Regions from separate parts of the Homo sapiens genome. Here region 1 is linked to region 2. The links come from fine-mapping of genetic effects on gene expression. A gene starts in region 2. The other region holds a variant in brackets. All regions are shown on one strand. Distances are between the middles of the regions.

The links.
Region 1: its variant is fine-mapped to the expression of MCM5 in whole blood (TOPMed, PIP 0.98).

What each region holds. Positions count from the first base shown.
Region 1 is chr22:35,438,632-35,443,020 of GRCh38, forward strand. It overlaps a transcript of MCM5 not described here. Among named protein-coding and RNA genes, the nearest start is that of MCM5, 41 kb to the left of the region's middle. The variant A/G (reference allele first, on the strand shown) is at 2,097.
Region 2 is chr22:35,397,972-35,402,360 of GRCh38, forward strand. It overlaps MCM5 (minichromosome maintenance complex component 5), which reads left to right and starts at 2,169. Exons shown (of 17, transcript NM_006739.4): 1 at 2,169-2,237; 2 at 2,460-2,634. The coding sequence starts at 2,468. RefSeq lists enhancers at 1,714-1,763, 1,774-1,933.

The DNA of each region.
Region 1 (4,389 bases), 41 kb after region 2:
CACATATTCATCCATCCATCCATCCGTCCATCCACATATTCACCCATCCATCCATCCATCCACCCACCCACATATTCATCCATCCATCCATCCATCCATCCACATATTCATCCATTCACCCATCCATTCATCCATCTACCCACCCACATATTCATCCATCCATCCATCCATCCATCCATCCATCCGTCCATCCACATATTCATCCATTCACCCATCCACCCACATATCCATCCATCCATCCATCCATCCATCCATCCATCTACATATCCATCCATCCACTCACATATTCATCCATCCATCCATCCATTCATCCATCCATGCATCCACCCACCCACATATTCATCCATCCATCTACCCACATATTCATCCATCCATCCATCCATCCATCCACATATTCATCCATCCATTCATCCGTCCACCCACCCACATATTCATCCATCCATCCATCCATCCATCCACATATTCATCCATTCACCCATCCACCCACATATCCATCCATCCATCCACTCACATATTCATCCATCCATCCATTCATCCATCCACTCACCCGCCCATCCACCCACAAATTCATCCATCCATTCATCCATCCATCCAAATATTCATCCATCCATCCACCCACCCACATATTTATCCATCCAATCATCCATCCATCCATCTACCTGCATATTCATCCATCCAACCACCCACCCATCCATCCATCTACCCACATATTCATTCATCCATCCATTCACCCACATATTCATCCATCTATCCATACATCCACCCACCCACCCACCCACCCACATATTCATTCATCCATCCACCCACATATTAATCCATTCACCCATCCATCCACTCACCCACATATTCATCCATCCATCCACCCGCCCACATATTCATCCATTCATCCACCCACATGTCCATCCATCCATCCAACAAATACTGAACACAATGTGTAGCAGGGACAAACTAGTTAATGTAACATACTTAGGTTATCTTCTTCCCTCCTTTCCTCCCTCCCTGCCTTTTAGGGAAGAACACTCCTTCCACCCCCACTCTGTCTTTTAGGGAAGAACACTAAACTTGGAATTGGAAGTCTTATGTTCTAATGCTTCCTCTATCACTTACTAACTCTGTGAAGTTGGGCATTTAATTTTTCTAAACATCTCTGAACCCCATTTTCCCCATCTGAAAAGTGGGAATGCTAATACTTTGCAAGACTGTTGTAGAGATGCAACCAAATAGTGTGCAGGCCTGGCATGGTGCCCAAAGCAGAGTGGGCACACGCAGTGTTGGCTGCACCCACCTTCCTTATACATTGATTGCAGAACATAGAAATGAACCTGAGAAGAACGTGAAAGTGAACCTGAAAAGAAAGGAAGAAATAAAAAAAATCATCTAGAATCCCAGCAGTTTCCTTAAGTTGCCTACTGTCAATTTTCCATTTCTCTCGTCCAAATTCACATGGAGACATCATTTTTACACACTTGTAATCAATTGTAGGCGGAGTCTGGGGTCCTAGCACTTCCCCTAACATCATCTCATGATACTTAGACTTTAAAAGAACCCTTGAGTAGGCCCTGTGATAAAGGATGTTAGTGAAAAAAATAATGAGAAACAGGGACTTGGCTTAGAGAAAGAAGCCTGCGTCAGATCAGTAGGCCCCCCTGGGGCTGTGGAAGCATGCAGAAGGTCCCTTAGGAAGTGATGTTGGAAATGGCCTTGGGCCAGCCACGTTATTTCTCTGGACCTCAGGTCACCCATCTCTGAAATGGGAGCATTGAACTGGCTGATCCCTGAAGCCCCTTGAGGCTCTGGGGTTCTAGGGAGTATGTGACCCCTGAACTGCCTGGAATATCTTAGGTATGCCAGGTGCTACAGGGGTTGAGAGGGGAGGAGGTACGGACCCTGCCTTCCATGTCCTTACAGTCATCTTGGGGCCATAAATTCAGGCCAGAAAACCCATTCAAGGACAGGATATAAGGAAGAACAGTATAGCATTCTACTGCAGCAATGCAAACTCCATTTGACCCTAATCCTGGCCCAGTTGGCCAGAGTGGAACTTGTGCTTCCAGAGGATCCGAGGAAGGCAGGGGCTGGTCTGGAGGCAGGCATGC[A/G]TCTTCTTTGCCTCAGTGTCCCCAGAGTCCAGTAAAAAGTAAGATCCTGCCTGGGTGTGGTGGCTCGCACTTGTAATCCCAGCACTTTGTGAGGCCAAGGAGGGCCAATCACCTGAGGTCAGGAGTTCAAGACCAACCTGACCAACATGGAGAAACCCCGTCTTTACTAAAAAAACAAAATTAGCCGGGTGTGGTGGCGCATGCCTGTAGTCCCAGCTACTCGGGAGTCTGAGGCAGGAGAATCGCTTGAACCCGGGAGGCGGAGGTTGCGGTGAGCTGAGATCACACCATTGCACTACAGCCTGGGCAATAAGAGTGAAACTCTGTCAAAAAAAAAAAAAAAAAAAAGTAAGATCCCAGTGACCGTATGGTGAAGGGACCTTGCGTCCAAGGTGGGCCCTGCGCAGGAATGTGCGGGGAAAGGGGTTTGTGCAGAAGAGTCTGGAAAGCTTCCTCTGGGAGAGGCTGGAGAAGGGACTGGGCTGCAAAGCCCAGGGGACATGACCACTGTCTCCATCAGAGTTACAGGATGCTATATGGAAGATGGATTAGATGTGTGCTGGTGGCCCTAGGGGCAGGGCTGGGGCCAGAGGGAGGAGTGAGCTAAGGGTGGGCTCAGCTCAGGGAGGACAATCTCGCACTCATGGGCTCTTGGTTTGGGGACCAGAACAGCAGATGCTTGCAGGCTCTCTGGGTGCCCCCCCACCACCTCTACAGGCGCTGTGCTGAGTACTCTTCTATGTCAGTACCTATTATCCCTCACACAGCCCCATAGAGTAGGTGATTCCCTTGTGCTTATTTTACAGGTGTGGAAACAGGCACAGGCTAAGTCACATATTGGGAAGTGGAGTGAGTGGGATTGGAACCCAGGCAGTGGGTGTCCTGGCAGTGGGGGTATATGGGCAGAGGTGAGGGATGGAAGGGCAGAGGAGGACTGGGCAAGGTGATTCCTGAGGCCCTGTGGCTTCAGTGGCTTATCAGGGAAGGCTCCCTGGAAGAGGTGCCCTTCAGCTGAACCTTGAAGGCTGGGAAGGATCGATGGAGAGGAGCAGCAAGGGTGTCCCAGGCCAGGGAAGGAAAAAGCACAAAAGGCCTAGAGGTGGAATGTGGCATGGGTGTGAAGGTGAGGCCAGGACGAGTTGGCATGGCTAGAACTGCCTAAAGGAGATCCAAAGCCACAAGCCGGGCCTCTTGATCCGGTTCAGAGGCCCCTTCCCATTGGCCAGCCTGCGTGTTGCAACAGCATCCCACGGGTCCCTCCCTCTGTCCTTCCAGTCTCCCCTGTTCCCTTTCAGCTCCTCACCAATCTGGTCGAATCTAAATCTGATCGAGCTACTCCCTGCTCAGGAAACTCCCGTGGCTCCCCATTGCCCAAGGAGAAAGTCCACGCTCCCCTGCTTGGCGTTGTTTCCCGGCTGTCCTGTCCTTCACCCCCTGGCCCCACCTGACACCCCATGCCACCCGTGTATATTATACTCCAGTGCCAGCGGAAGGCCCACCACCCCCAGACACACCACTCACTTGCTGCCTGCCTGCTTGCGTGGTGGGTTCCTCCGTCTGCGCTTCTCTCTCTGCTCTTCGGCCTAGGGGGCCGACATCCATGGATGGAGAAGTGTGGCTACTAAAAAAGAAAAAAAAAAAAACATCACAAACTCAGTGGCTTAAAATAGCACACATTTATTCTCTTATGTTTCTATTCTCTTACGGTTCTGGAGGTCAGAAGTTCAAAATCAGCCTCACCGGGCTACAGTCAAAGTATGAAAGTGCAGGCAGGGCTGGTTCTTCCTGGAAGCTCTGGGGAGAATCAGTTTCCTCGCCTTTGCCAGCTTCCAGAGGCTGCCACATTGCTTAGCTCGGGGCCTCTAAGCCCGTCTTCAAAGCCAGCACCCTCCGATTCCCTCCCACCCTCTGGACCTGTCACCATCTCTCCTTTCTCTGGCTCTGCCTCCTGCCTCCTTCTTTAATGACTGTGATTACATTGGGCTCATCCTGATAATCCCCAAATAATCTCCCCATCTTAATTTGATCTCATCTGCACCTTTGCCATGGAAGGCGCCGTGTTCACAGGTTTCAGGGATTTGTCCATGAACATCTTTCCAGGCCACTACTCTGCCCCTGACAGGAGGCATCAGTGGGCTCTGTTTGTTTCCCATTGGGTTTGCCATGGAAACATTGGAGATTGGACAGTGGCAGGAGGATAAAGTGAGGGTACGTGTCCTTGGCCCCCTTCTCACGGGGTCCTAGCTCCTGCCCTGGCCTTTGGGTCCCCCTTCACAGCTCTGGAAACTGCATC
Region 2 (4,389 bases):
ATTAAGTTTCACTCTTGTCGCCCAGACTGGAGTGTAGTGGCACGATCTCGGCTCACTGCAACCTCCGCCTCCCAGGTTCAAGCGATTCTCCTGCCTCAGGCTTCCAAGTAGCTGGGATTACAAGCGCCTGCCACCACGCCCGGCTAAGTTTTGTATTTTTAGTAGACACAGGGTTTCACCATGTTGGCCAGGCTGGTCTTGAACTCCCGCCTCAGCCTCCCAAAATGCTGGGATTACAGGTGTGAGCCACGGCGCCTGGACTGTCTTTTTTTTCTTTTTAGAGATGAGTCTCGCTCTGTCGCTCAGGCTGAAGTGCAGTGGTGCAATCAAAACTCACTGCAGTCTCAAACTCCTGGGCTCAGGCCATCCTCCCACCTTGGCCTCTTGAGTAGCTAGGACAACAGGTGTGCTCCACCATGCCCAGCTAATTAAAAAAAAATTTCAAGCCGGGCGCAGTGGCTCATGCCTGTAATCCCAGCATCTTGGAAGGCTCAGGCGGGTGGATCACCTGAGGTCAGGAGTTCAAGGCTGGCCAACATGGTGAAACCCTGTCTCTACTAAAAATACAAAAAATTAGCCAGGCGTGGTGGCACACACCTGTAATTCCAGCTACTTGGGAAGCTGAGGCAGGAGAATTGCTTGAACCCAGGAGGTGGAAGTTGCAGTGAGCCGAGATCGTGACACTGCACTCCAGCCTGGGCAACAGAGTGAGACTCTGTCTCAAAACAAAAAAAATTATAAAAAAATTTCTAGAGAAGCGGGATCTTGCTATGTTGCCCAGGCTGGCCTCAACTCCTGGACTCAAGGGATCCTCTCATCTTGGTCTCCTGAAGTGCTAGGATTACAGGCATGAGCCACAGTGCCTATAGATCAAGGTTGAGGCTTAGAAGTGAAGGGAGCCCAGAGGAACCTGGCTAGAGTTTGGTCAAGGAGAGTCTTTGTCACCATACTACAGAAAATTAAGCAGCTGTTAAACAGAATGAGGCCGGTCTGGGCATGGTGGCTCACGCCTGTAATTCCAGCACTTTGGGAGGCCGAAGCGAGTGGATCACTTGAGGCCAGAAGTTCGAGACCAGTGTGGGCAACATGGTGAAACCCTGTCTCCACTAAAAATACAAAAATTAGCTGAGCATGGTGGCGCCTGCCTGTAGTCCCAGCTAGTTGGGAGGCTGAGGCAGGAGAATCGCTTGAACCGGGGAGGCAGAAGTTGCAGTGAGCCGAGATTGAGCCACTGCACTCCATCCTGGGGGACAGAGTGAGACTCCCTCTCAACAAATAAATAAACAAATAAAAGCAGTGTGTTAGGGTGCGAGAACCCGGGTCGGGGACGCGGGTGAGCCGCGCGGTAATCGCCCTGTCCTGCCACCAGCTGGAGGACAGGGGCTCCTCAGAGCCTCAGGCCCAGAGAACGGGCCCCACGACCGGGAAGCGAATACTCCACAGGGCACAGTCTCCCAATGCAAAATGGGCACCTGGACCCAATCATTTCTGAACTTCTAGTTTTTTCTCCCTATGGCTATGAAAAGGGTCATTTTTTTTCATAGGACTTTAAAAGAAGGCTTAAGAAAAGCACGCAGGCCTGGCCGGGTAGCTCACGCCAGTAATCCCAGTGCTTTGGGACGTCAAGGCAGGCGGGTCGCTTGAGAGTAGAGTTTCGAGACCTGGGCAAGATGGTGAGACTCCGTCTTTATGAAATATTTTAAGAAAATCACGTACACCTGTGGTCCCCGCTACAAGGGAGGCTGAGGCGGAAGGATTGCTTGAGCCCAAGAGGTTGAGGCTACAGTAAGCCGTGATCCAGCCACTGCACTCCATCCCCGGCAACACAACGAGACCATGCGTCAGGAAAAAAAAAAAAAAACCAAGAAAATAAAAAAGAAACCACCTAAAGGCGTCCTCCGCGCGCCCGCCCCTCCGCCATCTTTGCGTCCGCCCCGTCCTGCGCCGCCACTTCCTTCCCAGCCAGAAGTTTCGCGCCAAATTGTTCCGCACACAAAATGGAGCCCGGAAGGAGGCGAGGTCATGCACTTTGCAGCCAATCATCTTCGGCAGACAGTCCGGGCGGCGGGGCTGGAGGGCTCAGAACGGTCCAATCGCTGGCCGCGAGGCTCCGGCGAACCAATGGGAGCGCAGCGGCTGCGGCGTCCGAACACCGCCTCTTGTTTTTCCCGCGAAACTCGGCGGCTGAGCGTGGAGGTTCTTGTCTCCCCTGGTTTGTGAAGTGCGGAAAACCAGAGGTGAGGCTAGTGGGAGTGGGACTGGGACTGGGAGCCAGCAGGCATCTGGATTTCCGGGTGTAGTTGGAGTGGGACAGGAGTTTCTCGGGAACTGGGGTTGGAGTCCGGGAGCGCGGCCGGGGGTCCCCCTGCTCCGGACTCAGGGCAGGGACCCAGGCGTCGGAGGGGAGGAGGTGCCAGGCGCTGCCCCCAGCCTGTTCTGGCCGTTTGTTCCCACCCCAGGCGCAGTCATGTCGGGATTCGACGATCCTGGCATTTTCTACAGCGACAGCTTCGGGGGCGACGCCCAGGCCGACGAGGGGCAGGCCCGCAAATCGCAGCTGCAGAGGCGCTTCAAGGAGTTCCTGCGGCAGTACCGAGTGGGCACCGACCGCACGGGCTTCACCTTCAAATACAGGTGCGGCTCCTGCGGGGCCGGGGGCTCGAGTTCCAGTGTGGCCGCTCACACGCCTCTACCAGCCTGCTAGAGTCCTGGACAGTCAGGGCACAGATGGGCCCAGACGGGGGAAAGAGCCGGTCCTGGGTCACAGGGCTCATCCCGGCAGCCTCACGCCTTGGTATAAGGCTTTGTGTATTTTGTTTTACTTTATTTTATTTTATTTTATTATTAACGTATTTGTTTATTATTTTGAGACGGAGTCTCGCTCTGTCGCCAGGCTGGAGTGCAGTGGCACGATCTCGGCTCACTGCAACCTCCGCTTCCCGGGTTCAAGCGATTCTTGTGCCTCAGCCTCCCGAGTAGGTGGGACTACCCCCGCCATCACCACGCCCGGATAATTTTTTGTAATTTTAGTAGAGATGGGGTTTCGCCATGTTCGCCAGGCTGCTCTCGAACTCCTGACCTCAAGTGATCCACCCGCCTCAGTCTCCCAAAGTGCTGGGATTACAGGCGTGAGCCACCGTGCCCGGCCTGCTTTGTGTATTTTATCTGTACCTGGAGTTAACTTCTGGGTGAGTCACCTGTTGAGTGGGCCACCAGCAACCAGCTAGCGCCACTTGGACCGTTTAGTTCTTTATCCAGATCTTGTTCCTGTTCATCTGCTTCCTATCATCCTTCCATGTCATGTCTGAGACCTTACAAACTCAAGTTCCCTGTAGGTGTAAAAGGTGAAGATGGCAGTTAGGATTCACTTCACTTCGCTCATTCATTTATTTATACCAGTCTTGCACCTTCATTGATTGAGCACCTGCTGCCTGCCAGATACTGTTCTGGGTGCTGGGCTGCAGCACTGAAGCTGGACCTGGCTCCTGCTTCTAGGTGATTGTACGACCTGTGACATCATGAGAATTCTCATAGGCCCGGCCTCTATCCCTGAAATGTTAAAATGCAGAGAACATGAGGTTGCAGGTTCAGCACTGGCCCATTATTAGCTGAGTGACTTCCAGGTGTCAGTGTCTCTGGGCCTCACCAGGCCAGAAATGGGTAAAGCCATTCCTGCTTTCACTTACTCATGCAGCAGCTGATATTGCCCACCTGTGTGCCAGGCACTGCGCTACAAAGATGAAAAGACGTGCTTCTTGTCCTAGAGAAGCTCCTAAGTCAGAGGAGTGAGTCGTGAAGACCAACAGATAACTTCCACGGTGGTCATTTCCTCCACAGAGGAAGGTGAAAGGACTTAGGGAAGTTTTCCGGGGGGCTGAAGTTTGAGGGGACCTTTGAGCTAAGGTCAGAGTTGCAGGTGTAGAAAGCTTTCTGTCTAGGTAGGAGCAATTGCTTGTGTAGAGGTGTGGGGTGTCCTCACAGCAAGTGGCTTTCAGTAGCAGTCTGGCCATTTTACTGGCTCCTGGACATAAGGGAGACGGGGCTCAGGCCTGTGATACTGCGAGGCTGGGGAACAGCCTGTGCGTTGGTCAGTGGTCCCCAAATATGTTCTTGCCACAGCAGTCACATGGGATGCTCTGCTAAGCATCTGGGCTGGACGCAGTGGCTCATGCTTGTAATTCCGACGCTTTGGGAGGCTGATGCCAATGGATCATTTGACCCCAGGAGTTCAAGACCTGGCTGGGCAACATAGTGAAACCCAGGCTCTATTTAAAAAAAAACAGTCTGACTAGAGGTTGATAAGGCAGATGTGTTTTCTGCTGCCTTGGTGCCTCCAGTTTTTTTGTTGTTTTGTTTTTTGTTTTTTTTTTTTTGAGATGGAGTCTCGCT